4 linked regions of the Homo sapiens genome follow. The protein of the gene in region 2 interacts with the protein of the main gene of each other region in a pairwise test. Each region holds a gene or a part of one and is shown on either strand. Other genes may lie near its edges. The genes, in order: NRF1, ZMYM6, NFYC and MAT2A.

Region 1 (4,533 bases), on a different chromosome or scaffold from region 2:
GCCTCCTGGGTTCAAGCGATTCTCCTGCCTCAGCCTCCTGAATAGCTGGGATTACAGGCGCCCGCCACCATGCCCAGCTAATTTTTCTATTTTTAGTAGAGACAAGGTTTCACCATGTTGGCCAGGCTGGTCTGGAACTCCTGACCTCAAGTGATCCACTCACCTTGGCCTCCCAAAGTGCTGGGATTACAGGCGGGAGCCACTGTGCCCGGCCTAGGATTTTTTAAATACGATTTTTTCCCCAGAACGTCAGTATAAGAAAACACGTTATATATGAAATGTATGAAATGGAGCAGGTCTGGTGATGGGGCTCGCAGGGGGCTCTGGGCAATCTTCAGTGTCTTCTTTACGGAGGTCCCCAGCGTCGGAGTGGCACAGGTCGGAGACCGCTGATCTCGAGTAGGACTGCATTTTAAACGCAGAACGAGCTGCCCCAAGATAGAGTTCCTTTTGCCTAAGAAGCCAAGAGCTCCTATAGAGATGAACAATTCCACTTCCTGTTGCCACATTTTTAACTATTTATTGAATGAGGCAGTCAAAGACAGAATGGGAAACAACACAGAATCCATGCTCTGCTACTGGGGTTTTGCTTTTTTCTTCGTCTTGGCAACTTCTCAAACTATTTGGAGGTTATTTCACCACAAAGGAACATGGACTTTAAAGTCCCTGGACAACTTCACAATGACGATAAAAAATAATAATTAAAAAAATAACAAATTGTAGAACTAGGACTATTTATATGTAAATTTCCCTCCCCTCCCCCCATTACGTACAGAAAAGAACATATAAAGAACATTAGATAGTTTTATATAAAACAAGCAAATACAAGAATCTGAAACTTCTCTCAAAGGTTGAGCAAGACGTGGAGAATCTTTTAATGTCGCATTAAAAAAACACATTAAATACACCATCACACACATGGGGAGAGCTGGGAGGAGGGAGGAGGAGCTGTCCCTGTACTCAAGGTTCAGAGATTTGGCCTGTTGAAAAGTCAGGTGAATTCAGCTACTGGAGACTCAGGGCTTGCAGCTGAGAAAGACAGAGTTAACGGTTACCAAGAACACCCAGATAGTCAACACCTCTGAGGAGGCAAGCTGCTCCCGGCCTGGGCCACGAGGTTGCATCAAGGAACATGGGCCTCCAGGAGTCCCTTCTGAAGCAGGGCCTGATCCAGGAACACAGCAAACACCCTCAGCTGTTTTCTATGGCCAGGTGTCCCTTCTTCCCTTCCGCGTACTGACCGGGCCCAACCAAGCTTAGCTTCCAAGATCACACAAGATCAGGGGCGTTCAGGGTGCTGTGGCCACAGACCAGATGTCTCTTCTTGTTCATTCCAGCGCCTCCTCTGTGAAGCTACAGACAGTAGAGAAAATTGCTCCCACGGGTGTATCCTGGTCTAGGACGATTTTTCTTTCCTTCCTTTCCCTTCCACTGCCCCCGCCCCCTTCCCATCCTCTCCCCCACCATGCACGCACACACACAAGCACACTTACACGCACGCACTCCTCAAACCCCTAATACTTCGGTTACCTTCAGTTCATATATACGAGCAATTCAGGACTGACCTTAAAACCAGAGCAACATTTTAATAGTCATGAGATCAAGGATTCCTGGGAAGGAGAGGAGATGGGAGGCTGAGGCCCGGGAGCTTTCAAGACATTCATCTGCCTGTGGCAAGGTCAGCACCTGGGCCAGCCCGAGGAGCATCTCAGCTGGCAGACCACGCAGTCCCTGGACCTTGCAAGCACATCTCTGACCCACCCCATGCTGGAGCCTCTTTCCTCAGGTGAGTCCAGCAGGGAGAGTTCTGTGTGGCCACTGGGAGGCAGCTTTGGTGAAGGGCATGGTCACCTCCGCCTGAGTTTGTCAGTAGCTCAACGCATGACCCTGGTATGAACAAAAACTGGGTGACTGTGTCTGGCCACGTACCCTACCACCCACTAAACTGGGTGAATTATTGTTTCCACAGCGCACCTTGATTTCATACAGATAATTCCATGCGGGTTTCATACATATATATATATATATATGTATATATATACTTTATATATATGTAAATGTGTATGTCCATATGTACACATATACATATATTCACACTCACACATACACACACATAAGTATACACACACATTTCCGCAGAAAGAAGTCCTGCCACAATTTGGCTTTTTTGGGACAGTGAAATTGACAATGCAGTTTCTTCACCAATCCCAGAAAATCAAGAGTGGTGCTTTAAAAAATGCAATTCCAAAATCCGCTTTCTTCCTTTTAAAAAAAAAAAGGTTAACAAAACTTTCCTTCCAAAGTCGAGAGACTTAATTCCATTTGATTGCACCTCTGCAAACGTGTAAAAAATTTTGAAGTAGACTAGAAAACGATGCCATAATATGGCTGTATGTCACTGTTCCAATGTCACCACCTCCACAGCTTGGCCGTCCATGGTGACTGCGCTGTCTGATATCCTGGTGGTCACAGGGGCCATGGCCACCTGCACTGGTCCGTTGCCCTGGGCGAGGCTGGTCACCACAGTCTGGTACATGCTCACAGGGATCTGGACCAGGCCTGGAGAGACAAAGAGAAGACCGTTGGTGGGGCTCAGGCTCAAGTTCCCAGATGCTGGCTGGACGGGGGCACCCAAGTCTTGCCTTTGAGGTATCGTGGTCACCAGCCTCAGGTGATCACATACCCATGGCCCAGGCACAAAGACATCTCTTTCCCACCCCATTAAAATTTTTTTCATTAATTTTTAAGATTTATAATTGATATATAGTAACTGTTCATGTTTATGGGGTACAATGTGATGTTTCAATGCATGTATACACTGTAGAATGATCAAATCAAGAAAATTACCATATTAATCTCTTTAAAGATTTATCATTCATTGTGGTGACAACATTCAAAATCTAGCTATCTTGAAACACAGACTACATTGTTATTCGCTACAGTCACCCTACTGTGTAACTGAACACCAGAACTTATTCTTCCTTTGCACCTGCTGGCCAACCTCTCCTGCCCCCCTCCCCAACCCTTCCCCAGACTCTGGTAACTATTATTCTACTCTCTACTTCTAGGAAATCAACTTTTTTCCATTTTAACTTTTTTTTTTTTTTTTTTTAAGAGACAGGGTCTGGCTCTGTAGCCTAGGCTGGAGTGCAGTGGCGTGACCACAGCTCACTGCAACCTCGAACTCCTGGATTCAAGTGATCCTCTCACCTCGGTCTCCTGAGTAGCTGGAACCACAGGCGTGTGCCACCATGCCTGGCTAATATAATTTTTTTTTTTTTTGAGATGGAGTCTTGCTGTGTTGCCCAGGCTGGTCTTGAACTCGTGGCCTCAAGTGATCCTCCCACCTTGGCCTCCTGAATAGCTGGGATTACAGGCGTGAACCACCAACCCTGACCATTTTGATTTTTTTAAAACAGACTATCAGAAAAGAAAAGTTTAGAGAAATTGTGGAAACATGCCTTAGGGTAGGGCCTTCCCAGCTTGCCGTGAGAGGGCCCTGCCTGCCTCCGCATCTAGGAAGCACAGGCCCGTCAGGTGTGAATGTCCCCGGCCTGTCTTCTCCCTCTCAGAACAGGCCACCATTATTTTTCTTTGATATTTGGCTACACTGCCTTCTTCAACCCTCTTTCTGCCTATGCTTAAGTCTCTCTCAGCTTGAAAAGAAAAATCTTGTCCCTCTCCTATCCTGTCTTCTGGCCACTGCTCCGTCTATGTGCCTTCCTTCATAGTCAAGCTTATTTTATTTATTTATTTATTTTTAAAGCCTAGGTCACTTGTTTCCTGATTTCTAGATTTCACACACCAGTAAAATGTAAAAACACATTTTGGGGTCAACTTAAAAAAAAAAGACCCCAGCTACTCCCTAATATCACTATTATTTCAGAGTAGAAAGGATGGCTTAAAGGAAGAAGCACATAACCTCCATAAAGGTAGTCCTGCCTAAAAAGGGAAAGCTGATAATACATTAAAAAAAAGGATTCCCAGTAAGGCAGTAACTAACATATACATCAATCTCTCTTCCTTCTGAAACTAGAATTACAGTGAATGAGGAAAAAAGGATATAACCGAGGGATGTCAACATTTTTTGGGAAGATGCAAAGCAAATGTGAAATGGTTCTGATTGAACAGAGAAGTGGAAGGGGCAACTCCTATGCTCACACAGGGCTCAGCACATAGAGGCCTAGCTACGGCAGAAAGAGGGATGAGGCTAAAAATGAGAATGAGTGGAAAGTTTGAATTTAATTGATTAGACCAACCCCAACATCCAGACCCAAAGACCTTTGCTGACTGGGCCTCTGAGGTTCACCCACTGTATTGAGAAACTGACCCAGAGAGGCCCCTTTTAGTTCTTTTTGACATTTAAACCATAGGCTACTTTGATGAAGATAAAAATTATTTTAAAAAGGGTTGTCAAAATATTTTCTAATGCAAAAAAAATCAAATATAAGATTTTCTTTTCCAATGTTAAATTGTATGTAACTTTTTTCTAAGAGTAAGTTTTGCCAGTTTAGGGATAAGGGGTAAGCATTT
Region 2 (8,676 bases):
TGGGAGTAATACATAGCTATTCCAAATGCTGAGCACTACCTATTTTTTAGGTAGTGTGTTTAAAAGGGGGTAATAAATGAAAAAAAAAATTTTTTTTTTTTTTTGACATGGAGTCTCATTCTGTCACCCAGGCTGGAGTTTCATTCTGTCACCCAGGCTGGAGTGCAATGGCGTGATCTTGGCTTACTGCAACCTCCAACACCCAGGTTCAAGCGATTCTCCTGCCTCAGCCTCCCAAGTAGCTGGGAATACAGGCTTGCGCTACCACACCCGGCGAATTTTTGTGTTTTTTTCCAGTAGAGAAGGGGTTTTGCTATGTTAGCCAGGCTGGTCTGGAACTCCTGACCTCAGGTGATCCGCCCACTTTGGCCTCCCAAAGTGCTGGGATTACAGGTGTGAGCCACTGCACCCGGCAAAAAGGAGCAATAAATGAAATTAAATCTGGCTGGGCGTGGTGGCTCACACCTATAGTCCCAGCTACCCAGGAGGCTGAGGCAGGAGAATCACTTGAACCCGGGAGGAGGAGGCTGCAGTAAGCCAAGATTGTGCCACTGCACTCCAGCCTGGGCAACAGAGCGAGCCTCTGCCTCAAAAAAAAAAAGAAAAAGAAAAAAAGAAAAGTTAAATCTGAATGATTTAGAGTTTGGATTTCAATCATTTTAGATTTACAAGCTGCCTTTTCTGTTAATGGCAGAAAAGATACAAGAGTGTCAATGCAATCTGCTCATTATACATAAAATCATCACAGACAAAATCCTATTTATTCTTACCACATTCTTTAAAACGTTTTAAAACAAAATGTAATCATGAAACATTTTTAAAATGTAAATGCCTATCTTTATTCTGAAATTGCAACCATCCTTTTTTTTAATGTTAAAATACCCTTACATATTTCAAAACAGGAAGTTTTTTAAAAAGTCTTACTTTTCTGAATCAATGATGGTAATAAATGGCAGTTGTATTTTTAATCTCTCCACACATAGCAAAATAAATGAGTAGCTATGTTAGTTCCAAAGTTACTTTAGAAATTTCTTTAGACTATTAAATGCCAAAAACTAGGAACCATTGCATTAATTCACCACTTCCCATGATATGTATTATGAGCACCCAAAGAGGTGCTCTCTATAAGATATGCCTTCTTTATAGATGAGGAAAGTGAAGCTAAGAGATGTTCAGCAACTTGCCCAAGGTCACAAAGAGACTACGTGCACAGATGGGAATCAAACCCAGTCTCTCTGTTTTGTTTTTTTTTTCTTTTTGAGACGGAGTCTCGCTCTGTAGCCCAGGCTGGAGTGCAATGGTGCCATCTCGGCTCACTGCAACCTCTCCCTCCCGGGTTCAAGTGATCCTCAGCCTCCTGGGTAGCTGGGATTACAGGCACTCACCACCATGCCCAGCTAATTTTTGTATTTTTAGTAGAGACAGAGTTTCACCATGTTGGTCAGGCTGGTCTTGAACTCCTGACCTCAGGTGACCCACCCACCTCCACCTCCCAAAGTGCTGGGATTACAGGCATGAGCCACCGCACCCAGCCAGTCTCTCTGTTCTAAAACCCAAGATAGCACTGTCATAGATGTGAAAATATAAAGTAATTACTACAATGAATTCAAACTCTGGTCCAACTGAAATTAAGTTCCCCTGTTGCAGTAGTCTCTCCCATCTCCTTTCTCTCACAGCAGTTACCATAGTAAATCATTTCATTGCTTATTTGGATAATTTGATTAATGCTTAACATTCATCCTTCCCCCTACACACACATTAGACTAAAAAGATCACATCCATTATGGACAATACCTGTTTTTCTCACCCCTGTATACCCAATCGCCCAACACAGTCAACATAACAGTAATGACTATAGGTTCTAACAGCAGACAGAAACAGATATGATCTTGACTCCTAAACAAGCTATTTAATCTTTCTTAGTTTCAATTTCTTTATCTGTAAAATAAAGATAATATTACCTAACCCATAGGGCCAACGGGGAGGGAGGGGGCAAATGACTTAATATAAATAAGGTATACAGAATGACATCTTACAGTTAGTCAAAAGCAAGCACGATATGTACACAAAATGCTAGTTCTTTTTTTTTTTCTTTTGAGATGGAGTTTCGCTCTTGTTGCCCAGGCTGGAGTGCAATGGCGGATCTCAGCTCACCACAACCTCCACCTCCAGGGTTCAATCGATTCTCCTCCCTCGGCCTCCCCAGTAGCTGGGATTACAGGCATGCGCCACCACGCCTGGCTAATTTTGTATTTTTAGTAGAGACGGGGTTTCTCCATGTTGGTCAGGCTGGTCTCGAACTCCTGACCTCAGGTGATCTGCCCGCCTTGGCCTCCCAGAGTGCTGGGAGTACAGGCGTGAGCCACTGCACCTGGCCAAAATGCTAGTTCTCATACTTATTTATTAGTTTCATAACTGGCATTTAATAAATACTTGCTAAATGAAGGAATCTAAGTCTATTCAATCCAAAGTGCATGTTCTTAAACATTATACTTAAATAACAATATTTATTGACACTTGCAAAATGAAGAGGACATTAAAAATATTATATACATCTTCAAATTACCAAAATGAGTGTTTAAGATTCAATAAAATTTTTTTTTTTTTTTTGGAGACAGAATCTCGCTCTGTCACCCATGCTGGAATGCAGTGGACGATCTCGGCTCACTACAAGCTCCGCCTCCCAGGTTCACGACATTCTCCTGCCTCAGCCTCCGGAGTAGCTGGGACTACAGGCGCCCACCACCATGCCTGGCTAATTTTTTTGTATTTTTAGTAGAGACGGGGTTTCACCGTGTTAGCCAGGATGGTCTCGATCTCCTGACCTCGTGATCTGCCCGTCTCGGCCTCCCAAAGTGCTGGGATTATAGGCATGAGCCACCGCGCCCGGCCAGATTCAATAAAAATTTCTTTGCCTTATCAACTCAATTTCTAAAATTTTTCTAGTATTTCTGTTATATTTCCCTGACCAGTTTCTTTTACCTCACAAAGTAATTTTTCTAAACCTTCATAGCTCACGAGTCCCAACTCCACATCTTTCCTGCTCATTGATGTTTCAATTGCACCAGGTAAAAACAAGTAACTAAGAACTCCCTCAACATCCCTCAGCCCCCTCCACCTTACCTACAAATTGCTCAGCAAACTGTCCTGCTATCTTACAGGAAAAGGAAACCTTCTTTTTAGCTATAGCTGAAATAGTGCTATTTTAGAATAATTATGTTCCAAGTATTGCAAGCAATACACTTATAGTAAAAATCACCATTGTTTATTTGATAGTCAAATTTAACCTGGCATCCTGTATTTTATCTGGAAGCCCTACATCTCCAAGTAGATAACTTTCTAATCTCAAATCCCAGATTTTTATGTGCAAATGCCTCCTTGTGCAGTTTACCACTTGAATGTCCCACAAGCCCTTTAAACACAACAGACCTCAAACTGCACTTAGTACTTCCTCCAAAATCCTGTTCTAACCCCTCAGTAAATGGTATCACCATAAACCCCAAAACCTGTAAGTATCCTTGGACTCCTCTTTGACCTTCACACCCATAAACAATCTCTAAATTTGATCAATCCTACCTAACCATTTTTAAATCTATTATCTTTTCCCACTTTATTGTTGATACTCAACTATTAAACACACCACATTCTCTCACCCCTCCATGACGTGGCTATTTTCTCTGCTATATTTTCTCTGTCTGAAACTCTTAGTCAATTTTTATAATACAATTGCTACCTGCTATGTGAAACCTTCCTCTCCTTCCCATATAGATTTAGGGCTCCTTCCCCTATGCTCCCAATGCACCTCACACAATTTTAAAGCACTTACCTAAGACTGTGATTTTGTATTTTTTTTTTTTCAGATGGAATATTGCTCTGTTGCCCAGGCTGGAGTGCAGTGGAGCAATCTCTGTTCACTGCAGCCTCCGCCTCCTGGGTTCAAGTGATTCTCCTGCCTCAGCCTCCCCAGTAGCTGAGATCACAGGCATGTGCCACGAAGCCTGGCTAATTTTTTTGTATTTTTAGTAGAGTTGTGGTTTCACCGTGTTGGCCAGGCTGGTCTTGAACTCCTGACCTCAAGTGAGCCACCTACCTCGGCCTCCCAAAGTGCTGGGATTACAGGTATGAGCCACCACTCATGGCCTTGATTTTGTATTTGCACAAAAGGTGGCACAGGCCAGGCACGGTGGCTCACGCCTGTAACCCCAGCACTTTGGGAGGCCGAGGCAGGTAGAGTTCGAGACCAGCCGGCCAACATGGTGAAACCCCGTCTCTATTAAAAATACAAAAATTAGCCAGGTGTGGTGGTGGGCACCTGTAATCCCAGCTACTCGGCAGGCTGAGGCAGGAGAACTGCGTGAACCCAGGAGGTGGAGGTTGCAGTGAACCGAGATGGCGCCACTGCACTTCAGCCTGGGCTACAAAGCAAGACTCCATCCCAAAAAAAAAAAAAAAAAAAAAAGAAAGAAAAAAAAAAGGTGGCACAAAGCAGCAGAAAGCATACAAGTTTGAAGACAATTAGGTTTAAATGAGAATGCATAAGATATGCTTAGCATAGCTTCTCACAAGGCACAGTCACTCAACAAATATTACTTCTCTCATTCTCATAACTTTTCTCTCCATTACACTATCAATTACCTTGAGAGCAGAAGTCCTATCTTTTCATCTCTGTAGCCTTTCTGAAAACAAAGTAACTAATACAGTTTACCATCCTGGTTAAGGGTTTGGGCTCTTGAATCAGACTGCTGGAGTCCAAATCCTGACTCAACCATTTATTAATTATGTGACTTTTAACGGGTTACTATCTAGGACTCAGCTTCCTCATGGGTAAAGTGGGAAGAGAAACAGTACTTAACTGAGGGTTGTGAGCATCGAATGGATTAAGGTATGTAAACTGCTCACAACAATGTTCAAGTATTATGGATTACAGCAGGCAGGAATAAAAACTCACTGAATGAATATGAATACTCAACATATATGAATATAAGGACTAAACTGCAACTTTTTTTTTTTAGATGGAGTCTCCCTTTGTCGTCCAGATTGGAGTGCAGTGGCGCAATCTCAGTTCACTGCAACCTCCGCCTCCCAGGTTCAAGTGATTCTCATGCCTCAGCCTCCTGAGTAGCTGGGATGACAGGCGCCCACCACCGCGCCCGGCTAATTGTTGTATTTTTAGTAGAGACAGGGTTTCACCAGGTTGGCCAGGGTGGTCTTGAACTCCTGACCTCAAGGGATCTGCCCACCTCAGCCTCCCAAACTGCTGGGGTTACAGGCACAAGCCACCGCGCCTGGCCTTCAACTATAATTTTAATATCCAGAACAAACTCTTAGAAAATCAGAAAATAAAAAACATTTTTATTTATCTCTTATTTTCCAATATTCAAAGGAGATTCATCAATGCAACATAGAAAATAATACACAATTTGTTCAATTGGCTTTTCAATCATAGTCTATACCCTCAATCATGAAAAAATATAGCCTATTCACCTGAAAACATTAATATAAACCAAAGACAACTGAGCAGTTCCTACCCTCTTAAATATACAATCTAAGCTGCTAGGGAGATTTCCATTATCACAATTTTTATATTCAGAAAGAACATTGAATTAACTTAAAGCACATTATTTGTTAAGTGTATAGGCAAGGTATAATGAAAGAAATATTGCATCTGGAGTAACAACAAACTGTTGTATCCCAGTTTTACCATGAGACACTGGTGAAGTCACTTATTCCTTCAGGTTCAGCTTCCTTATATGTGAAAGAGGCTCTTTTATTCCAATTATTGAACATGTACTTTGTGCCAAATCCTGTGCTAGGAATTGGAGATTCAGGTCAATAAGACCAATTTCTGACTTCAGAGAGACTGCAGTCTAGTGTGTCAATGAAAGATGAGGAGGAGATGGCCAGATTAGTATAATCAGTATGAAGACAAAATTCATTGACCTGTAGATACCATAATAAAAGTGATTGCACTATACAATTAAAAAAAAGAGAGAGAGAACAGCTCATTCTACTTGTGAGTGAGAAACTTCATCTTAAAAGAGGACAAAATTTTGCCAGCCTACCTAGCTTATTTCTTCTTCCACCGGCACAAGAAATGGCAGGTGCAAAGGCAGGGAAATAAAATGCAACCGAGTTTTAGAAGATAGTTTTGAGTGAACTGCAAATAGCTGGCAGCAGCATAGATTTGAAAAGGTGGAAACAATGAATGATGACACTGGAGAGGGAAACAAAGGCCTAAACATGGATGGTTTGGATGTCACATTGAAAGATCTTTGCTTCATCACACTGGAGGAAACAGGGTCTTTAAAGGGAGAAATATCACTCGATCTATACAGTACAATGGCATCACTGTAGAGTGTTTTGATGGGATATGTGACTGAAGGAAGGAGAATAGGTAGGAAACTATTATAAAAGTCCAAATGAAAAATAATGAAATAGTTCAGGCATGATGGCTCATGCCTGTAATCCCAGCACTTTGGGAGGCCAAGGCAGGAGGATTGCTTGAGGTCAGGAGTTCAGGACCAGCCTGGGCAACATAAGGAGACCCCGTCTCTACAAAAACTAGCTGGGTGTGGTGGAGCATGTTTGTGGTCAGCTACCTGGGAGGCTGAGATGGGAGGATCGTTTAGAGTGCAGTGGCCATACTCACACCACTGCACTCCAGTATGGGCAACAAAGTGAGACCCTGTCTCAAAAAAAGGAAACAAAAAAAAGAGAGAGAGAAATAATGAAATATAGAAGAACATCATGGGTCAGATACAAAAAATATTTAAAAGCTAAAAACCACAAAACCTGGCAAAGAAATGGTTACTTTAGGCAGAGAAAGAGTAAGAATTTACCATCTGGAGGGAAAACAAGTAGCATGGATGCCACCATCCCCCACTCCACATCTAACAGACACTACCTCAGAACTCTTCTTAGCCCAGCACTCTAGCAAGGCATAGAGTTCATGAGTGAAACAAAACCTACCTGACATCCCTGTCTTCTTATGATACTGCCTGTGGCTGGGCATGGTGGCTTACAACCATAATCCCAGCACTTTGAGAAGCCGAGGTGGGCAGAGCACTTGAGGTCAGGAGTTTTGAGACCAATCTGGCCAACATGGCGAAACCCAGTCTCTAACAAAAATATAAAAAATTAGCCAGGCGTGGTGGCGCACACCTGTAATCCCAGCTACTCAGGAGGCTGAGGCAGGAGAATCGCTTGAACCTGGGAGGCGGAGGTTGCAGTGAGCCAAGATCGCGCCACTGCACTCCAGCCTGGGAGTGACAGAGCAAGACTCCATCTCAAAAAAAAAAAAGGAATGATACTGCCTGTGAGATGGTGTGAAAAATAAAATTGTTTTTTATTATTTTAAAATATAATTGCTTTGCTGATACAATAAAGTCAATAACTTTGAGTGTAAAGCGAAAGAACTGTCCCAGAAGAAAAATTCCTTGCCAAAACAACTAACTCATCTCTCCCATTGATTTTATTTTATTTTTTTTTGAGACGGAGTCTCACTCTGTCACCCAGGCTAGAGTGCAGTGGCGCAATCTTGGCTCACTGCAAGCTCCGCCTCCTGGGTTCACGCCATTCTCCTGCCTCAGCCTCCCAAGTAGCTGGGACTACAGGCGCCCACCACCACGCCCAGCTAATTTTTTGTATTTTTTGTAGAGACGGGGTTTCACCGTGTTAGCCAGGATGGTCTCGATCTCCTGACCTCGTGATCTGCCTGCCTTGGCCTCCCAAAGTGCTAGGATTACAGACGTGAGCCACTGTGCCCAGCCTCCACATTGATTTCCGTGCTCTCCATTCTGGGTCCCTATGGGGTAGCCAGAATGATCTTTCCAAACACAAATCTGTTTCATCTTACTTTCTCACTTAAAACCCTACAATTGGCCAGGTGTGGTGGCTCACGCCTGTAATCCTAGCACTTTGGGAGGCTGAGGTGGGTGGATCACCTGAGGTCAGGAGTTTGAAACCAGCCTAGCCAACATGGTGAAACCCCGTCTCTACTAAAAATACAAAAAATTAGCCAGGCGTGGTGGCAGGCGCCTATAATCCCAGCTACTGGGGAGGCTGAGGCAGGAGAATCACTTGAACCCGGGATGTGAAAGTTGCAGTGAGCCACCAAGATTACAACATTGCAGCAAAACTCCATCTCAAAACAAAAACAAAAAACCCTATAATGGCTATCTACTGCTCTTAGGATAAAAACCAAAATTTATAACAAGGTCTGCTACGTCCTACATAATCCAGCCTTAAACTATATATACAGCCTTATCATAGAGAAGCAGAATAGCACAAGTTCTGGAGTCTGACCACCTGGATTTGAATCCAGTCTTTGTCATTTACTACTAACTGTGATCTGTGGTAAACTATTTGGCTTTTTTGAGCTTTGGTTTCCTCATCTGTAAAATGGGGATAATAATATGGTGGTAAGAATGGTGCCTGACACACTCTTAAGCATATATAAATATTAAGTTAATAATGTCACATATGATTATGATATAATATATACTACATACTGATATACTAATGCCAGCTATTTTTATTGTTGTTGTTTTAATCATTATCATCATCACCATTTTCATACCTTTTCTGTTCCAGGCTCACTGTTCCTGCAGGTCTTAAAAAGAACCATGCATCTTTCCAACTCAGGGCTTTCCTATTCACAGTTCCCTCTGTCTGTAA
Region 3 (8,676 bases), 5.7 Mb from region 2:
CCCAGCACTTTGGGAGGCCGAGGCAGGTAGATCACGAGGTCAGGGGATCCAGATCATCCTGGCTAACATGGTGAAACCCCACCACTACTAAAAATACAAAAAATTAGCTAGATTTGGTGGCACACACCTGTAGTCCCAGCTACTCGGGAGGCTGAGGCAGGAGAATCGCTTAAACCTGGTAGGCGGAGGTTACAGTGAGCCAAGATCACGCCACTGCACTCCAGCCTGGGTGACAAAGAGAGACTCCCTCTCGAAAAAAAAAAAAAAAAAAGTTCTGAAGATAATCCCCAAAAAAGGCCCAGAAACATTCTGAGCAATGACCACGTCATTAGAATAAAGGAACATTGCACTGGTGCTCAGTAAATGGTTATCAGTGAATGAAGGAATGAAATAAACTAATAAATGGACCTTAAGGAGATGACAAATTCTGAATTATTTGTTTTTTGAAAATAAGTTATATTCTCCAAAGCATAAATTAAGACCAATAGATGGGAAATTATTCTGCAAAGACTCGCTTCAGCTCTCAGAGCTGTCCAAAGATGACACAACTTTCCTCAGAAGCTATGGATGGGGTTGTTAGGCACGGGCTGTTTGAACACTTGACAGGGATGTGTAAAGGCAACATGAGAGAGAGCAGTCATGTGCAGCAGCAAGAAAAAAAGCCCAATCTTTACAGCTAAACAGATTTAGATTTTAATCCCTCCTCACCACTTTTTAGGTGAGTGACCTCGTGCTAGTTATTCAACTCCATCGAGGCCAGTTTCCTGCACTAAAACATCTTGCAAGGTTTTAGGGCTTAGGAAAATTTCATTTGTTCAATAAATACTTAAATTATAAGCATAGCCATTGTACTAAATAAGCTCTGGGGATTCTAAACAAGACACAGTTCCTGTCCTTAAAGAGATTAAAGTCTACTGTAACAAACAGGAAAGTTAAAATAGGCAATCATGATGCTGTACATTAAGAGTTACAACACATGCAAATGCAAAATGCTATGGGAGGACATAAGCATAGCACCTAACCCAGGGCTTACGTAAGTTTTAGGCTGGTCAGAGAAAGCTTCTTAGGAGAATTAAAATCCTAAGAATAAAAACCAAGATAGACAAAGTGAACTGCATGTGCAAAGGCCTGAAGCTGACAGAAAGTATTACATTCCTGTTTGGTATAGCAGCAGCCCAGAAGCAAGAAGCTAGAAGTAGAGTTAGAAAGGTAGGCCGGGCGCAGTGGCTCATGCCTTTAATCCCAGCACTTTGGGAGGCCAACTGAAGTCAGGAGTTTGAGACCAGCCTGGCCAACGTGGTGAAACCCCATCTCTACTAAAATACAAAAATTAGCCAGGCATGGTGGCAGGCACCTGTAATCCCAGCTACTCAGGAGGCTGAGGCAGGAGAATCCCTTGGAGGCAGGAGAATCCCTTGTACCCAGGAGGCAGAGGTTGCAGTGAGCCAAGATTGCACCAATGCACTCCAGCCTGGGTGACAGGGCGAGACTCTCTCTCAAAAAAAAGAAAGGTATACAGGGTTGGACAAAGCTAATATACTAAAACTTTATTCTAAGGACAATGATAAGGAACTAATGCGTCTTAAACATTGGACTGGCACAATCAGTCCCACGTTTAAAGTGTAATTCTGATTTTCCCAGCCCCATGTTTAAGACTGTTTAGTTCCTTACCATTGGGTACAGTGTGGAGAATAAGCTGGAGAAGGGGACACAGTGGGAGGATGGCAGCACTCTAGACCACTAACGTGGAAAACAGGATGCTAAAGTTATCTGGTGACTGGATGCAGTAGTGAAGACACTGAGTTCAAGACCAGCCTGGACAACAAAGCAAATAATTCAGAATTTGTCATCTCCTTAACGTCCATTTATTAGTTTATTAAAAATTAAAAAATAAAACAAATTTTTTTGAATTCAAGACCAGCCTTGAACCTCATAGAGTGAGACTCCATCTCAAAAAATAAAAAATAAGCCAGGTACGGTAGCTTACACCTGTAATCCCAACACTCTGGGAGGCCAAGGTGGGAGGATCACTTGAACTGAAGAATTTGGGACTAGCCTGGACAACATAGCAAGACCTCCTCACTACTAACAATAAAAAAATTAGCTGGGCAGGCATGGTACTACATCCCTGTAGTCCCAGCTACTCAGGAAGCTGAGGCAAGAGGATGACTTGAACCCAGAAGTTTGAGGTTGCATTGAGCTATGATCACACCACCTCACTCCAGCGTGGGCAAGAAAGTGAGACCCCATCTCAAAAAAATTAATTAAAGTAAAATAAAAAATAAAGAAGATTCAAAAATCACTAAGACCCAGTGGTTAATAAGGCATGTAGAATAACAACACTGTGCTTGATAAAAAGCATGTACTCAAAAAATGGTACCTGCTACTATTATTATTGTTATTGGGCATTGGATTAGATGACCTTTGAAATCACATTCATCCTTAAGAGTCTACGTTACCTTGAAGATGTATCTTGTTCTCAGAAAAGTCCTTTCCCACGATTACCAAGCTATCTTATACAAAATGATTCATTTTTTTATTCATAGACTACACCAGAACTGCTCAACTGGGCTCCACTACACACCAGTCATAGCATGAAACGTTTATTAGGTGTTCTCACAAACAGCGGTCCATGACCAAGTAAGTCTGAGTAACACCGCGTAATGTATCTTCCCTCTTGAAGGGTCATAGGCAAATAAGCACCAAGGCTCTGAATAATAATTCTGCAGTAAAGAAAGGCATTTCACTTTGGCCATTTTTTGTCAAGGATCCTCTTTTTATCCCCAAAGGACACTGATTAGCACTACACAGAACTAATGTTCAGTGGAAGAGCTTGGGAAATGCTACTCTAAACCAACTTACAAATTTTAGTGGAGTGAAAAGACTATAGGCAACTGTATTCTGATAACCTTCCAAAATGGTTAGAGTTTTACACACATTATGGCGTTTTCCTTTCTAACTTAGTACTACTGAAAATGACATTAAATACCACCATAAATAGCAATCCTTTGCCTCCTAAGTGATTGCCAACCAAGCATTCTTGGCTTCTTAAAAGGCCCCAACTTCGTCATTTCATAATGAGCAAATTCTATGCTACTTACTTTCAGGGTACAGTAATAATTTTTAAAACAGTTTAAAATGACAAGGATGTCAACTGTGCAGATAATGTGTACTTTATTAGCCCCTTCTCTCTTCTCTTTTAAAAGGAACAGATCATGCCAGTGTCAAAGGGATATATCTTCTTAACACTGGGCAAAGAATCTCAACTTCATAGAGATTACTGGACAGTTTACAGCTCTGGAGGCCAAGGGCAACAGTAATTTGGGATTGTGAAAACCTTCAGTACTTCAGATTTAAGCCAATGACATGATACAAAATATTCTATACTCTAACATCATTTCCTATGAGTCATCTCATTCCTTTTTTGGTTTTGTTTTGTTTTTTTTTGGAGACAGTCTCACCCTGTCGTCAAGGCTGGAGTGCAATAGAGGCGCGATCTCGGCTCACTGCAACCTCTGCCTCCCGGATTCAAGCGATTCTCCTGCCTCAGCCTCCCGAGTAGCTGGGGTTACAGAGGCCCACCACCACGCCCAGCTAATTTTTTGTATCTTTAGTAGAGATGGGATTTCACCATGTTGGCCAGGCTGGTCTTAAACTCCTGACCTCATGATCTGCCCGCCTCAGCCTCCCAAAGTGCTGGGATTACAGGTGTGAGCCACGGCGCCCGGCCCATCTCATTCCTCTTATTAAAACACTTTGAAACACTGCTCAAGATCACTATTTATGGTTCATACTCATGAATGTATTTAAGAATAGGACAATTATTGAATCTTATTAAGAATATACAATTGACTTTAACACTTGAACCCGGGAGGCAAAGGATATACTATTGGCTTTAAATGAAGGGTATTCAGGCTGGGCGCAGTGGAGGCTGAGGCAGGCAGATCACCTGAGGTCAGCAGTTCGTGACCAGCCTGGCCAACAAGATGAGACCCTGTCTCTACAAAATATACAAAAATTAGCCAGGTGTGGTGGCACGCACCTGTAGTCCCAAGCTACTCAGGAGGCTGAGGCAGGAGAATCGTCTGAACCCAAAAGGCAGAGGTTGCAGTGAGCCGAGGTCATGTCACTGCACTCCAGCCTGGGCGACAGAGCAAGACTCCAGCAAATAAATAAATGAATGAATGGCATTCATTTAAATAGGACACCTTATATATAGTACCTTGAACGTGAATTTTTTTTTTTTTTTCAAAGAGGGAATCCCGTTCTGTCACCCAGGCTGGAGTGCAGGGGCATGATCTCAGCTCACTGCAGCCTCCGCCTCTGGGTTCGAGCGATTCTCCTGCCTCAGCCTCCTGAGTAGCTGGGACTACAGGTGCCTGCCACCATGCCTGGCTAATTTTTGTATTTTTAGTAGAAACGGAGTTTCACCATATTGGCCAGGCTGGTCACAAACTCTTGACTTCAGGTGATCTGCCAGCCTCGTCCTCCCAAAGTGCTGGGATTACAGGCGTGAGCCACTGTGCCTGACCAGACATGGATATTTCAACCTTTATTTTAAACGTATTCTACTGGAAACATTCAAATGCAAAGATTAGACTCTAGTTCCACTCTTTAAACTACAAGTTTATACAATAGAAAGCTCTCATGAAGTACTGGATGTAGAAGTAATCTATCTGGAGATCTGAAAATAACAAAATGGAAAATACAACTCCAATACTGAAAATGAGTACAGGTGCTGTCTCACTGCTATCAGGTACATCACTGCTAACACATGGAGAAGTGTGGGAAGGGTGCAACAATTCCTGCAACCTAGCAAAATTTTCTGCAGGCAGAGAGATTTTTCCTGAACCATTCCACAATACTGTCTAACTGCTTACTTCAAAGAAAACGTTACTCAAGTGACTACAAATCACACAAACCAAACCAACGGTCCTACTTCAACTGATAATTTGTACAGTTAGAAAAATTTTAAATGACTATAATGGAAATCTCTCCTTCTGGTCAGAATGAAAACACCAGTTGTTCCGAATTTAATCATCATTGCTATTTGTCAAATATGAAGAAGTTTTCATCGCATCGCAATCATTACCACTCAACACTTGGGGATGAACAAAAGAGATCAGGAAACAATCTTTCCCTGAAACAAATGATCCTACTACTTTGTGCATTCAAAAGTAAGACTGACCTCACACTGGTCCACTGAAAATCAGCTCCTAAACCACAACAGCACAACTAAATTAGGTTACTTCATGTCAAGTGGTTGCTCTCCCATTTGGAAATCTTACTGTATATTGCAGAGCAGACAATTACAAAAGGCCTCACCCCTCCTCATCAAGGAAGCTGTAACGGGCTGAAAGGACAGATTTCATGCTGTTCCAAAATGAAAATGTGTTCTCCCACTTATTAAGGTCCACTAAGTGATAGGCATCTACCACACGCTATTATATTCATTTCTCATAATTACCCTACAGGTAGGTATTATTGTCGTTATTTTACAGAAGAAGAAACAAGTTAAGAACCTGCTCCAGCACAGAGGGTAAATGCACTGCAGAGACAGAACTCTTCCCTTGGTCTGACTCCAATCAGCAACTAATACTGTCCTCTCCCATAGGCACTTTTTGGCCAAAGTTTTAAAAATCCATTTCCTCCTGCAATTAATCTACTTACATTATATTGAGTGCTTTGAGTCTCTGCAGGAAAACACTAAAATGACCTTGTAGCCTTCCTAAACTGTGACAGTGCATGCATGAAAAACTGAATAAACAAAATGAAAAGAAAGACTGTAAGACATCAGATAACTCACAACCAGTTTCCTCTGAGAACAAGAAACAGAATGGAAAAGAACAACTTACTGGCAAAGGAATATTCTTCCTGGTTGTATGCCTGAGGCCAGGATTGACCTTAAGAAGGTCATTTGTGACCCTAGTAATGTCCTCTGCCATTCTCATTCCGGTGAATGAAGTAAACCTGTCACTTAAAGTCATCTCTGCCATCAAGTCAATGCGTCCACAGGAGAGGCAATGCTATCCAGTGGAATGAGCACCTATCTGGAAATCCAGTGATCTGGGCAAGATTTGGCTCTGCCCTTGCATAGCCAAGTGACCCTGTCAAGGTCATCTCACTCTTTTGGAGCCTCAGTACAAAGGACACGCCTGAAAGAACTGAAGTTCGCTTCCTGAGCTAAGAAGCCAGGACTTTTTTTCTTTTCCCATAACATTCTATGGTGTCAACACAGTGTTTAAGAGTAAGGGCTTCATTTACATAAGAATTAAGAATTACAAATCTGTGGCTGAGCACTGTGGCTAACACCTGTAATCCCACCACTTCAGGAGGCCGAAGAGGGCGGATCACGAGGTCAGGAGTTTGAGACCAGCCTGGCCAACACAGTGAAACCCCGTCTCTACTAAAAATACAAAAAATTAGCCAGGCATGGTGGCGGGCGTCTATAATCCCAGCTACTCAGGAGGCTGAGGCAAGAGAATCGCTTGAACCTGGGAGGCAGAGGTTGCAGTGAGCCAAGATCGCGCCATTGCACTCCAGTCTGGGGAAACAGTGCGAGACTCTATCTCAAAAAAAAAAAAAAAACAGAATTACAAATCCGTGTCTGAATCTGGGCTCTGCTACTTACTGGCTGTGAGAACTTAAGCAAATTACTTTTCAGTTTCCTCACACGTAAAAATGAGGGTGGCTATATTATCTACCTCATAGTGTATGAGAATAAATATACATAATACATTTATATCCCAGCTGGTACAATGTAAGCAAGCACTCAATAAAAGTAGTAACTATATTATCCCTGTGTTTGATTCACAGATCCTAGTGGCTCAGTACTTTTGAACTAAAAGATATAAATTTCAAAATTACCTCAAAAAGACACCCAGCATAGCCTGGCTGGGCACGGTGGCTCACGCCTATAATCCCAGCACTTTGGGAGGCCGAGGTGGGTGGATCACCTGAGGTCAGGAGTTGAAGACCAGCCTGGCTAACATGGTGGAAGCCCGTGTCTACTAAAAATACAAAAATTAGCTGGGTGTTGTGGTGCACACCTGTAATCCCAGCTACTCGGGAGGCTGAGGCAGGAGAATCGCTTGAACCCGGGAGACAGAGGTTGCAGTAAGCCAAGATCACACCACTGCAACTCCAGCCTGAGTGACAGAGTAAAACTCTCAAAAAACAAAACAAAACAAAACCCAAAACAAGACTCCCAGCATAGCTCCATAGCACAGAATGGGTTTAGCCCATATATGTTTACAATTCTGTGGTATGAATCCTCATTTCGCTTTGCCTTCATTTCTCTGAAAATAAAAGGGGATAAAAATGCCTTGTAAAATCTTCTCTAGTACAGTTTTGGGATTTTTATTTATTTTTTGGGAGACTGAGTCTCGCTGTGTTGCCCAGACTGGAGGGCAGTGACACAATCTCAGCTCACTGCAACCTCTACCTCCCGGGTTCCAGCAATTCTCCTGCCTCAGTCTTCCGAGTAGCTGGGATTACAGGCGCCCACCACCATGCCAGGCTAATTTTTGTAATTTTGTTTCATCATGTGTGCGAGGCTGGTCTCAAACTCCTGACTTCAAATACCACCTGCCTCAGCCTCCCAAAACGCTGGGATTAGAGGCGTGAGCCACTGCGCCCAGTCTCTAGTAGTTCTGACCAAAGAAAAAAATGTGTAAGTATAAATGAGATAACAGATTTGTCATAAGAATTAAATAAGATGCCATGAACACAGCCTATAAAGTATAAATCTTAGTATGATTTCTGCCTGAAGAAAAAGCTGAGGTTCACAAGTTTTCAACATAAACTCAGATCTACTGAGATTTCCTGAGAGTTCAAGATTTCTAGAGTGGTCAATTCCAGATCTTAACAAGGTGGCCATGGGTATAAGGGGCTAACATGGAATGAAGGTGGTCACCAATGTTGAAGGGCAGGTTGCTCCAGAAATGCCTGCTGAAAAAAAAAAGGTGTACATATACACTCATTTTTATCACCTTGTCTAGTCTTACTAAAAACGAAACTAAGTTATAGATCTACAGCATTCTTCATATTTGGTTAACTTGATGACTGAGCCAAATGAGGCTGAAATGACCAATGTACAAAATACATGGCAAACCCTATTTTCACTTGTAGCTTTGCCTCTATCTTCCACAGTGAAACGTTATTGTAAACAAAAATGAGGGAGGGCTTCACCTAAGCACATCAAGACATAAAGCAATTAAGATTTCCAACTCACTGGTCTCCTCTCAAACCCTGATTTAAAGGTTTCCATGCAAAATTGGAACTGCAAATATTTTGTCCTATCCAGTCTTAATTTTACACATTGTTCAGGATAAGCATATCCTAGAATCAATATCCCACAGTCTGAAGAAAGCACTAGGCCTTTGAATAGGTCCTGGTATTTGGGGACACCCTAAGGAACTGGTGATGCTTGAAAAACCTCTCCAGTGAGCTCTTTACACTAGGCACTTGGTAGTTCCTCGCCATTTGGCATAAATTACCTCCACATACAGAAAGACTATCTGCAATATTCTGAAGCTTGGTTTTAAGGAATGCAGATTCTTCAAGTTTCTGTACATATTTTTCCCCATTATCTACCTGGATTCAGGAAAAAATGCAGCAATTTACTTGGTAAATCTTCCCTTTCACAATAGAAGCCAAGGGATATGATTTGAATAC
Region 4 (9,456 bases), on a different chromosome or scaffold from region 2:
TATAGGCATGCACCACCATGCCCAGCTAATTTTTGTATTTTTAGTAGAGACGGGGTTTCACCATGTTGGTCAGGCTGGTGTCAAACTCCTGACCTCAGGTGATCCACCTTGGCCGCCCAAAGTGCTGGGATTACAGGCGTGAGCCACCGCACCGGCCCTAGCAAGGATTCTTAACTTGCAATATATGGTTAAGTTTCAGAAATTATACATAAAATGTTTGTCCATGTGTGTGTGTGATTTCTAGGGAGATCCATAGATTTTGTCAGATATTTAAAAAGTTTCAAGTCACTGGGGTACAGGGGGCCGGCACTTCACTACAGCAGTGGACCATGTGTAGTATATTTGCAGGTTTTGAGCAATTTTATCAACCAGGTACTTGTCCAGCAAGGGTCACTGTCTGTGCAGCTACCGGACCACCTGCAAGGAGAGCAGATGACAGCATTCCCACGTATCTCCTGCCCCTAGAGTAAAGGTGAAGATCCATACAGACCACAGTCATGGTACCACCTCCTCTTTAGGTCTGATTAATTTGCTAGAGTGTGCCGGGCACGGTGGCTCATACCTGTAATCCCAGCACTTTGGGAGGCGGAGGTGGGCAGATTACCTGAGGTCAGGAATTCAAGACCAGCCTGGCCAACATGGCAAAACCCGGTCTCTACTAAAAATACAAAAATTAGCAGGGCATGGTGGCAGGCGCCTATAATCCCAGCTACTCGTAGGCTGAGGCAGCAGAATCACTTGAACTCAGGGGTGGAGGCTGCAGTGAGCTGAGATCTCGCCACTTCACTCCAGCCTGGGTGGAAGAGCAAAACTCTGTCTCAAAAAAAAAAAATTTTTTTTTTCCGCTAGAGTGGCTCATAGAACTTAGGGAAGCACTTGCTCATTTTTACTGGTTATTTTAAAGGATACAAACAAACAGCCAGATGAAGAGATACATAGGGTGAGGTCTGGGAGGGTCCCAAGTGTAGGAGCTTCTGTTACCATGGAGTTGGGGTGTGCCACCCTCCTGGCACGTGGATGAGTTCTTATTCACTTTCCTGTCAGCCTCCACCTGTTCAGCTCTCCAGAAACTCTCTGAACCCAGTCCTCTCAGCATTCTTTGTCCCAGGGTATGGGGTAGGACCCTCTCTGGAATGAGGGTCTTATGACCCATGATCAGAAGGGCAGGGCAAGATTAGAGTCCTGCCTTGGGGCAGGTGAAAGAGAAGCAGGAAAAAGTCAGAGAGATTCTGTTTCCTGAGGCCTGCTCCTGAGTCCTAACACTCTCAACATTATAACGAAACACTGTATAACAAGGGCTATGGGAGTTATGAGCCAGGAACCATGGATAAAAACATATATAAATTCACACATATATTAACATCACATCTATCAACGAGGTTGAGCATTTTTTTCATATGTTTATTGCAATTTGCATTTTCTCCTTGGTGAGCTACCTATTTTATGTTGTATATATTTTCCCACAGTAAAAGAGAAGGAAATGATTTACAGCTCTACATAGTATCCTGGAGAGACAGTCATGAAAATTGTTAAGAAAAAAAAAATCCATGTTTCTCTGAATAGTAAGATGTGTGCGTGTGTGTGTTCACAGAAAAAGGAAAGGGAGGATATAAACCAAATTGTTAATATTAACGACCTCAGGGAGTATGCAGTATTTATTGTTTGGCTATAAGAAGGGGCATGAATTTAGAGGTCAGACCAGGCTCAAGGCCCTAGCTCCACTACTGATTTGATGTGTGACATGGACGAATAACATGCCAGTTTCTTCATCTGTAAAACAGGAAGAGAAATAGAGCTGTTGTGAGTAGTAGATATTACAACAGTGCCTGTCACAATAAAGTGTAGCTATTGTCATCATATTATTATCTCCTTCAGTGTCTTCTTCACTGTACCATATCTATTCTTCCATTCAGGACTTCTTTATTGGGACTGTAAAAAGATTTAAGTATCAAAAGAGAAAAACATAGAAATAAAAACAAAATACAAAAAGCCTAATAATGAGGGGGTTCACATAGTACTTGTTTCTGATCCCACTAGAACTAGCTTGCCTCTGAGGCCATCCGAGATATCTAAGCTTTGGCCCTAAAGAACTGCCACAAATTTGGAGACGTGGCCTACATTTCTTTCTTCTTGGTCTGTCTTCACATAGAAGGTGCTCTTAAGACACACAGCCTAGGAACCTCCTTCTCAACACCTCCACACCTTCACTTGCTCTTTGCTATCCCTACTGTCACCCTCCTCTTTTCTCCTGCCACATCAACAGCTTCTTGCACTGCAAATGTTTTCTGGAACTCTCCCCATGACTGACAGGCTAATAAGGAGTTATTTTATTTGCTGTTTGAGTCACAAATACCATTTTTATCCAATCCCAACTTTGCCTTTTTTGTAGGGTTACTGCTACATTAATGTTCTCTGGCTTGAGAAATCTGAAGCCTTTAGGCAGTGATTAGATTTTTCCTACGTGCTTTACAACACTTCACATTCAACAAATTCATTAACGATAAACAGGAAATAAACCAACAATTTCTCCTGGTTTAGTTCACCCTTAGGACACGCATCTATGAAATCAGAAATCTTATTCCTGTCAGAACAGGATGGCCATGTGCTTCCCTGTTAACAAAGAAGTCTTAATTTTATTAATTACAATGCTTACGACTAAAACAAAGCAGGACCTCTTTCCATTGATTTCACATGATCGCCAGAGTCTCTCATTTCTCTGCTTCCTTCTGCCATCTTTTTTTTTGAGACGGAGTCTTGCTCCGTCGCCCAGGCTGGAGTGCAGTAGTGCGGTCTCAGCTCACTGCAAGCTCCACCTCCCGGGTTCACATCATTCTCCTGCCTCAGCCTCCCAAGCAGCTGGGATTACAGGCGCCCGCCACCACGCCCAGCTAATTTTTTGTATTTTTAGTAGAGATGGGATTTCACCGTGTTAGCCAGGATGGTCTGGATCTCCTGACCTCGTGATCCACCCCGCCTCGGCCTCCCAAAGTGCTGGGATTACAGGCGTGAGCCACCGTGCCCCGCCCCCTTCTGCCATCTTTATATTCGTTCATTTTCCGTTTCCTTCCCTTCCTTTCTTGTCTCTCCCTCTTGAACATTTCTAAGCACCTTGTGTGTGCCAGGCATTCAGTAACAAAGCTTGAGCAAAACAGCCCACCTTCTCATTATCATGGAGCTTACAAGCCTAACTGGGAATTGGAGACATTCATCAAATAATCACCAAATCTATAATTTGAAACTGCACTTAGTGCCATGAAATAAAACACAGGCCCCTGTGACAAATCTGTGTAGATGAAGGCTTCATCCAGGAAGTGGTAGCTGAGCTGGAGTGAGAAGGATAAGGAGTTAGCCAGGCATCTCCCCACATTTAGAGCGCCGAGTGGGCAGAGACCAGGATTGTTATAGCATTTGCTCCTGGGTCTGACTCACAGATGTGCTCATAAATATTTGTGGAAGGGAGGAAGGGACAATACGAATAATATAAAATAAATGAAAATGTGTCCTCCTTTGTTTTGATACTATGAAATTAATAAAATTAACTGCTACTAACTAAAAAATCCAAGTAGAACACAGAAAGGAGAGTGTGGCACAAGGTAAGGTTGCAGAAGTAGCAGCCAAATCACACTGGGGCCTTGAGTATGTAGAGATTTTAGTCCGTATCCCGACAGCAATTGAAAGCCACTGAAAAGTAATTCACAGCAAATATAGTTAATTTTTTTACAGCTTACATTAAAACAAATTATGTACTAGATACTGTGCTAAAGACTCTACTTGCACTATTTGAATCCTTGAAACAATCCTATGATGTACTATTAATATTCCAATTTTACAGAACGAGGATACTGATGCATAGAGAGGTCGTGACTCCAAACCCCTACTCTTACTGTATTACACCTACACACTATTCACAAGTGAGAGAAGTAGGTAAGCAACTATGTACAGCTAAATCTCATCTCCTTGGCAGGCCTAGCCCCACTGTGGAGTTGGTAGCACAGGGGTATCAGGATTTAATGAGCCAATCATTGACTTTACGCTCCTTGTTCTGACTCCCTAATAAAATAACCTTCTAGTTATATTCTGGCTTCCCATATAGATTTTTCTGCTGGGAGATAATGCACTGACCAGCCTACACACGCATTTTGTTCCAGTTGACAATTTTATTACACATTGTAAGTTAATAAATTGGCATTCTCCTTTAAAAAATAACAAAAAAATTTAATAGTCTTATACAGTTACTTTCCCATGAAGGGTTAGCTTGAAAAGTAAAAAGCAACGAATAAAAATATCATCACCTATTGTCTCTTTTGTGGTCGAACCTTTTCTTGCTGCCTGCTTTGAGCGACCGTGGATGTGGTCACTGAGTCTGGGGAGGAGCCCTTTATCTTCTTTGTGGATGCCCCCAGCACAGCCCAAGTGCTTCCTTTGTTTCCCACTGAGCCTTTAGCAAATCCCACCTTTCCTCCTGCACCGACGGAGAGGATTGTTCTTGGGAATGCACCTTGTTCTACTGCCGCCAGCAGTAGGCAGCTGGAGACTGTTACTAGGGGTCTCCTTCACCTCCCCAGCGTAAAGTACATCCCATGCTAGGAGCAGGCCGTTCCCTGAGAACCTCATTAAACCCGGCGTTCTTGTCACGCGCTCCGCTCAGGGCCACCAGGCCACCAGCCCGACCAGACCTGCACCGAGGCCCAGCCCCAGAACAGGCTGCAGAGACCCCCGCCCCCAAGGCGGGCTCCCTCCAAACGGGACTCCATACTCCTTGCTGGCTCAAGTTTTGTTTCGCTCTTTTTCCCTGTAATTCCTTTATTGGGCAAAACTGGGACAAACGCAGGTGGACATTTTAAAGTGAAAGCTTCATGAAACAGCCCATTCCACGCCGTCAAGAGATCTGCTTAAGCACATTCAAGGGAACGAATAGCCCCCACCCACCAAAAAAGAAATGTTCGTTCCATATTCTCCTGAACAGAGGATTGAAACATCGATTCCCCCCCCCTTCAAAGGAACAGGAAGGCCACGGGGCAAGGACGGACTTGGGAGCGGCCTCCTTTCTCTCTGGAGGGAAAGGCTGGAGCGCTGCCTCCACTTTTAAGTCCACGAACCACGAAGGGTGAGGATCCCTCAGAAACTTTAGCGCAGGGGAGCGGGCAGGAGGGCGATTGTTTAAATCGATGGCAGCACCTTCATTAATCTGCTTTCCGGCCATCTTCAGCAGAGCCATTCACCAGGAAACGACTAGAAGGTGGGCCTGCGCCCCTCAGATATCCCGGGGCCGGCAACGAGCCGGGCAGGGACGCCGAAGGAAGGCCGTGAGGAGCCCTCGCTGGCCGGCCAAGATGGCCACCTTCACATGGCCGACCGCCACCGGCTCCCTGCCACCCGGCATCTAGAGGCGGGACGGCCAGAAAGACCCCAGCCGCAGCACAAAACCTCCGCGATTCCCGCCGCCTCCGCTGGGGGACGCGACCTCCGGGAAAGCTATCCCGGCCAACGGTCGGAAGGGAGGTGCCATGTCACCGCACAGGGGAGCGGGTCCAGCAAGCCCCAGTCGCTTTTTCTCCCACATCAAACAAGGAAGAGCAATCCCCCACGTCTCCTCGCGTCTGCATTTTTCTCCTAGCTCTAGCGGCTCAAGATAGCTGAACGGTCTCTGGAGGGCCGGATTGCCACGGCACCTCCCGCGGCCGCGCAGTGTGGTTCAGCCCGGACTCCGCGGGGCGAGCTGCCCTTCCTCCCCCGACCCCCGCGCAAGTGGTGCATTGGCGCGCGGCGCCGAGGGGCGGGGCCCGAGCCGGGCGCGCGCGGGCGCTGCTCTATAAATACCGGGCCGCACCGCCCGCTGCTTCGTTCGCTCCGCGCCGCCCGCCTGCTACGAGTAGAACGCTGTCCGCAGCTTGCGCATTTCGCAGCCGCTGCCGCCTCGCCGCTGCTCCTTCGTAAGGCCACTTCCGCACACCGACACCAACATGAACGGACAGCTCAACGGCTTCCACGAGGCGTTCATCGAGGAGGGCACATTCCTTTTCACCTCAGAGTCGGTCGGGGAAGGCCACCCAGGTGAGGGGACGGCCTGAAGCGAAGCGTGGGGCGGGGCAGAAGGCAGCGCCAAGGTCCGGCTGGCTGCGGCCGGCCGGTGGTGGGGCCCGCGCGGGTCGTCCTCGTCCGCCGGGTGATGGAAGAGCGGCGACCGCGCGCTTTCCTCGTGGCGCCGCCAGGGCCTGGCGCGTGGCCGCCGCTCCTCTTCCCCCTCCCCTCTCCACCCTTCCCTTCCCCCCTCCCTTTTCATTCGGTCGCGCGCCTAGGCATGCGGAAGGTTCCAGAAAACGTGAAGGGCGGGGGCTGTGGTCGCTAGTGAGTTCTGGCCGGGAAGGGAGGGCACTGTTAACCCCTCCCGGCCCTGCCGTCTGACAAACCTGGAGTGGGCGACCCGCCCCGCGTGCTCGCGTCCGGCCCTCGGGAGCGCGCGCCCCGCATTGCAGCGGCGACCACGTGTTTGCCGCATGTGGTATCTGGGCGAGGGGGAGCCGTGAGCCTCCCCGGCTGTCCTGGCCCTCAGTTTGAGGGGTGGGGGGCCTATGCCTTGGGACGTCGTCTGGCTCCACTGCCTCAGTGGTTAGGTCTTGACTACACACTGGAGAATACGCACATGCCCTTCGGCGGATATGGCCTTGCCTCCAAGGTGACGGCCTCTGACTAAATATAGCTCATGTCCAAGAAGGCAGTCCTTATTTGGACCCCTTGTGAAAAGGATGGGAAGCATGAATTAGGAGCTGCCATTGCTTTGGGTTCGCATTTAAAGTCTTCGGTGCAGGGTTTTACTTGAGGCTTTGTCCGCTCAACCGCCATTATGGGGATCAATTGGCACGTGAAGGAGGAGTAAAGCTATATTTCCAGGAACTGAAAATCTCAGCCTGAGCATATCGGCTAGTAAAGATGATTATTTGGCTCTTTTGGCTGTTTCTGCCCTTAGGATGACCGCAGTAGTTATCTATCTGGTGGCTTTAGGGTCTGGTCAGTTTACTGTGCCCATGATGAAATCCCACAAGTAACTTAGTGGTATGAGAGGACAAACCCAGGATCTTGATGAGTGCTGAAGGTTAGCTGTTACACCAGTTAGTAGTAGACCGAAGTTCAGAGCCTGCAGTCTGGCTTCCACATTATGTTTGGATTCTGTTTTAGGCGGTTATAGAAAATTCAGAAAAACGAACTTGAATTAGGGAGATATTTGTTCTCCCTCCTAACAATAGATGACAAAGCAGGGAGACATGGATTCGGAATACGTTTGAGCATCTTCTACACTGTTGAGCTTTTGTTTCCTGCGCAACTCCTAACAGCAAAATCAGATAATTGCCATTTTAGTCAGAAAATGCTTTTCATTTAATTGTTTAATCGAATTATCTTGTTGCTCATTATAATTGGTGTTCCTTAAGATTAGGGAAACTGGCCTACCTGTGGCCTCAGTTCTACCAGACTCCCAGGTGCAGAGGGGTTTGGTACAGTTGTGGAAGTGAATATGATATAGGGCAAATTCTGTTCTTTAAAGGATATAGGACTAACAGTTCACCTTTCTGGTGATTAGATTTATAATGCAAACTTTGAATTTTAGGAGGAAAGTGCAAACACAATGAATTAAGATGTATTAAGCATGTTTTTTAAAATCTCCAAAGATTTTACAGATAGTAACAGGGAGGGAGCTTGCATACATACATACATACTTTGTTTAAAGTTAAAGAAACTGAGCCAGGAATTTCTCTTTTCCAGATAAGATTTGTGACCAAATCAGTGATGCTGTCCTTGATGCCCACCTTCAGCAGGATCCTGATGCCAAAGTAGCTTGTGGTAGGTTCAGAATGTGCTTATCAACTGGTGGAAAGATAGCATAAAAATTATTTTTATAGAAGTGATGTTTGAGTTGAATGTCTCTTTTTATTAGAAACTGTTGCTAAAACTGGAATGATCCTTCTTGCTGGGGAAATTACATCCAGAGCTGCTGTTGACTACCAGAAAGTGGTTCGTGAAGCTGTTAAACACATTGGATATGATGATTCTTCCAAAGGTGTGTTTTAATGATTTTGCTCATTTTTTTCTAGGTAACAGCTGTGAGGTTTGAAGAAACTCCTAGAATGTTCCTGCTAATCCTAAACTCCAGTTGTATCTTACTATACACTAAGCCCTATTCTGTTCATTCTCTAAAAGGTCCGATGGTTTAGGTATATTTGATTTCTTCAGCAGTGTTTAGAATTCCAGATAATTGCTGTAAACAGCAGGTATTTCTAGGACGTAAACAAGATGTTGTGTTTTTTGCTTATAGGTTTTGACTACAAGACTTGTAACGTGCTGGTAGCCTTGGAGCAACAGTCACCAGATATTGCTCAAGGTGTTCATCTTGACAGAAATGAAGAAGACATTGGTGCTGGAGACCAGGTATCTTGGTGTAGAGGCTGTTTTAATCTCTTCTAACATTAAATTCTGGAGCTTGATCACATTGGTGACTTTTCTTTCTTTAGGGCTTAATGTTTGGCTATGCCACTGATGAAACTGAGGAGTGTATGCCTTTAACCATTGTCTTGGCACACAAGCTAAATGCCAAACTGGCAGAACTACGCCGTAATGGCACTTTGCCTTGGTTACGCCCTGATTCTAAAACTCAAGTAAGTGATGATCATAAAGCTTGGTTGTCTCATTTATTACATCAGCACAGAAGATCCATAATTTTGATAATAGCTAACTGGAAAAAATAGCATTTGTTTTCCTATATTGTAACTTCAGGTAGAGAAACAAATACAAAGTTATTGTTTGGTGTGATGTTCTGATGACCTGTGTTGCCTTCAAGGTTACTGTGCAGTATATGCAGGATCGAGGTGCTGTGCTTCCCATCAGAGTCCACACAATTGTTATATCTGTTCAGCATGATGAAGAGGTTTGTCTTGATGAAATGAGGGATGCCCTAAAGGAGAAAGTCATCAAAGCAGTTGTGCCTGCGAAATACCTTGATGAGGATACAATCTACCACCTACAGCCAAGTGGCAGATTTGTTATTGGTGGGCCTCAGGTAATGTCATTTTGTTGCATTTTTCTGGATTTTTGATGGTTACTTAAAATTTTGGCTACTACATTTTTTTCAGGCTTTCTGAAACCTACATGTGAATCATCGGAGGATATTTGCTGAATGAATTCAGAATAGGCAACCTAATCCACTTGGAAAGCACTAGGCGTAAAGTAACTTAAATCCTGTAATTTCAGGGTGATGCTGGTTTGACTGGACGCAAAATCATTGTGGACACTTATGGCGGTTGGGGTGCTCATGGAGGAGGTGCCTTTTCAGGAAAGGATTATACCAAGGTCGACCGTTCAGCTGCTTATGCTGCTCGTTGGGTGGCAAAATCCCTTGTTAAAGGAGGTCTGTGCCGGAGGGTTCTTGTTCAGGTATACACTCTTTATATAACGAACGATTAAAAG

Evidence for each region.
Region 1: the proteins of ZMYM6 (region 2) and NRF1 interact in binary tests that used the Homo sapiens proteins (3 or more experiments, as listed by UniProt).
Region 3: the proteins of ZMYM6 (region 2) and NFYC interact in binary tests that used the Homo sapiens proteins (3 or more experiments, as listed by UniProt).
Region 4: the proteins of ZMYM6 (region 2) and MAT2A interact in binary tests that used the Homo sapiens proteins (3 or more experiments, as listed by UniProt).

What each region holds. Positions count from the first base shown.
Region 1 is NC_000007.14:129,753,044-129,757,576, reverse strand, and holds the end of NRF1 (nuclear respiratory factor 1), read right to left. Parts: intron 2,560-4,533; coding exon 2,396-2,559; 3' UTR 501-2,395; downstream 1-500. UniProt on the Homo sapiens protein: Transcription factor that activates the expression of the EIF2S1 (EIF2-alpha) gene. Links the transcriptional modulation of key metabolic genes to cellular growth and development.
Region 2 is NC_000001.11:35,021,030-35,029,705, forward strand, and holds part of ZMYM6 (zinc finger MYM-type protein 6), read right to left. Parts: intron 1-8,676. UniProt on the Homo sapiens protein: Plays a role in the regulation of cell morphology and cytoskeletal organization.
Region 3 is NC_000001.11:40,693,937-40,702,612, reverse strand, and holds part of NFYC (nuclear transcription factor Y subunit gamma), read right to left. Parts: intron 7,008-8,676; exon of another isoform or gene 6,868-7,007; intron 1-6,867. UniProt on the Homo sapiens protein: Component of the sequence-specific heterotrimeric transcription factor (NF-Y) which specifically recognizes a 5'-CCAAT-3' box motif found in the promoters of its target genes.
Region 4 is NC_000002.12:85,533,325-85,542,780, forward strand, and holds the start of MAT2A (S-adenosylmethionine synthase), read left to right. Parts: upstream 1-5,843; 5' UTR 5,844-5,963; coding exon 5,964-6,054; intron 6,055-7,758; coding exon 7,759-7,836; intron 7,837-7,930; coding exon 7,931-8,053; intron 8,054-8,308; coding exon 8,309-8,421; intron 8,422-8,504; coding exon 8,505-8,648; intron 8,649-8,830; coding exon 8,831-9,049; intron 9,050-9,240; coding exon 9,241-9,423; intron 9,424-9,456. UniProt on the Homo sapiens protein: Catalyzes the formation of S-adenosylmethionine from methionine and ATP. The reaction comprises two steps that are both catalyzed by the same enzyme: formation of S-adenosylmethionine (AdoMet) and triphosphate, and subsequent hydrolysis of the triphosphate.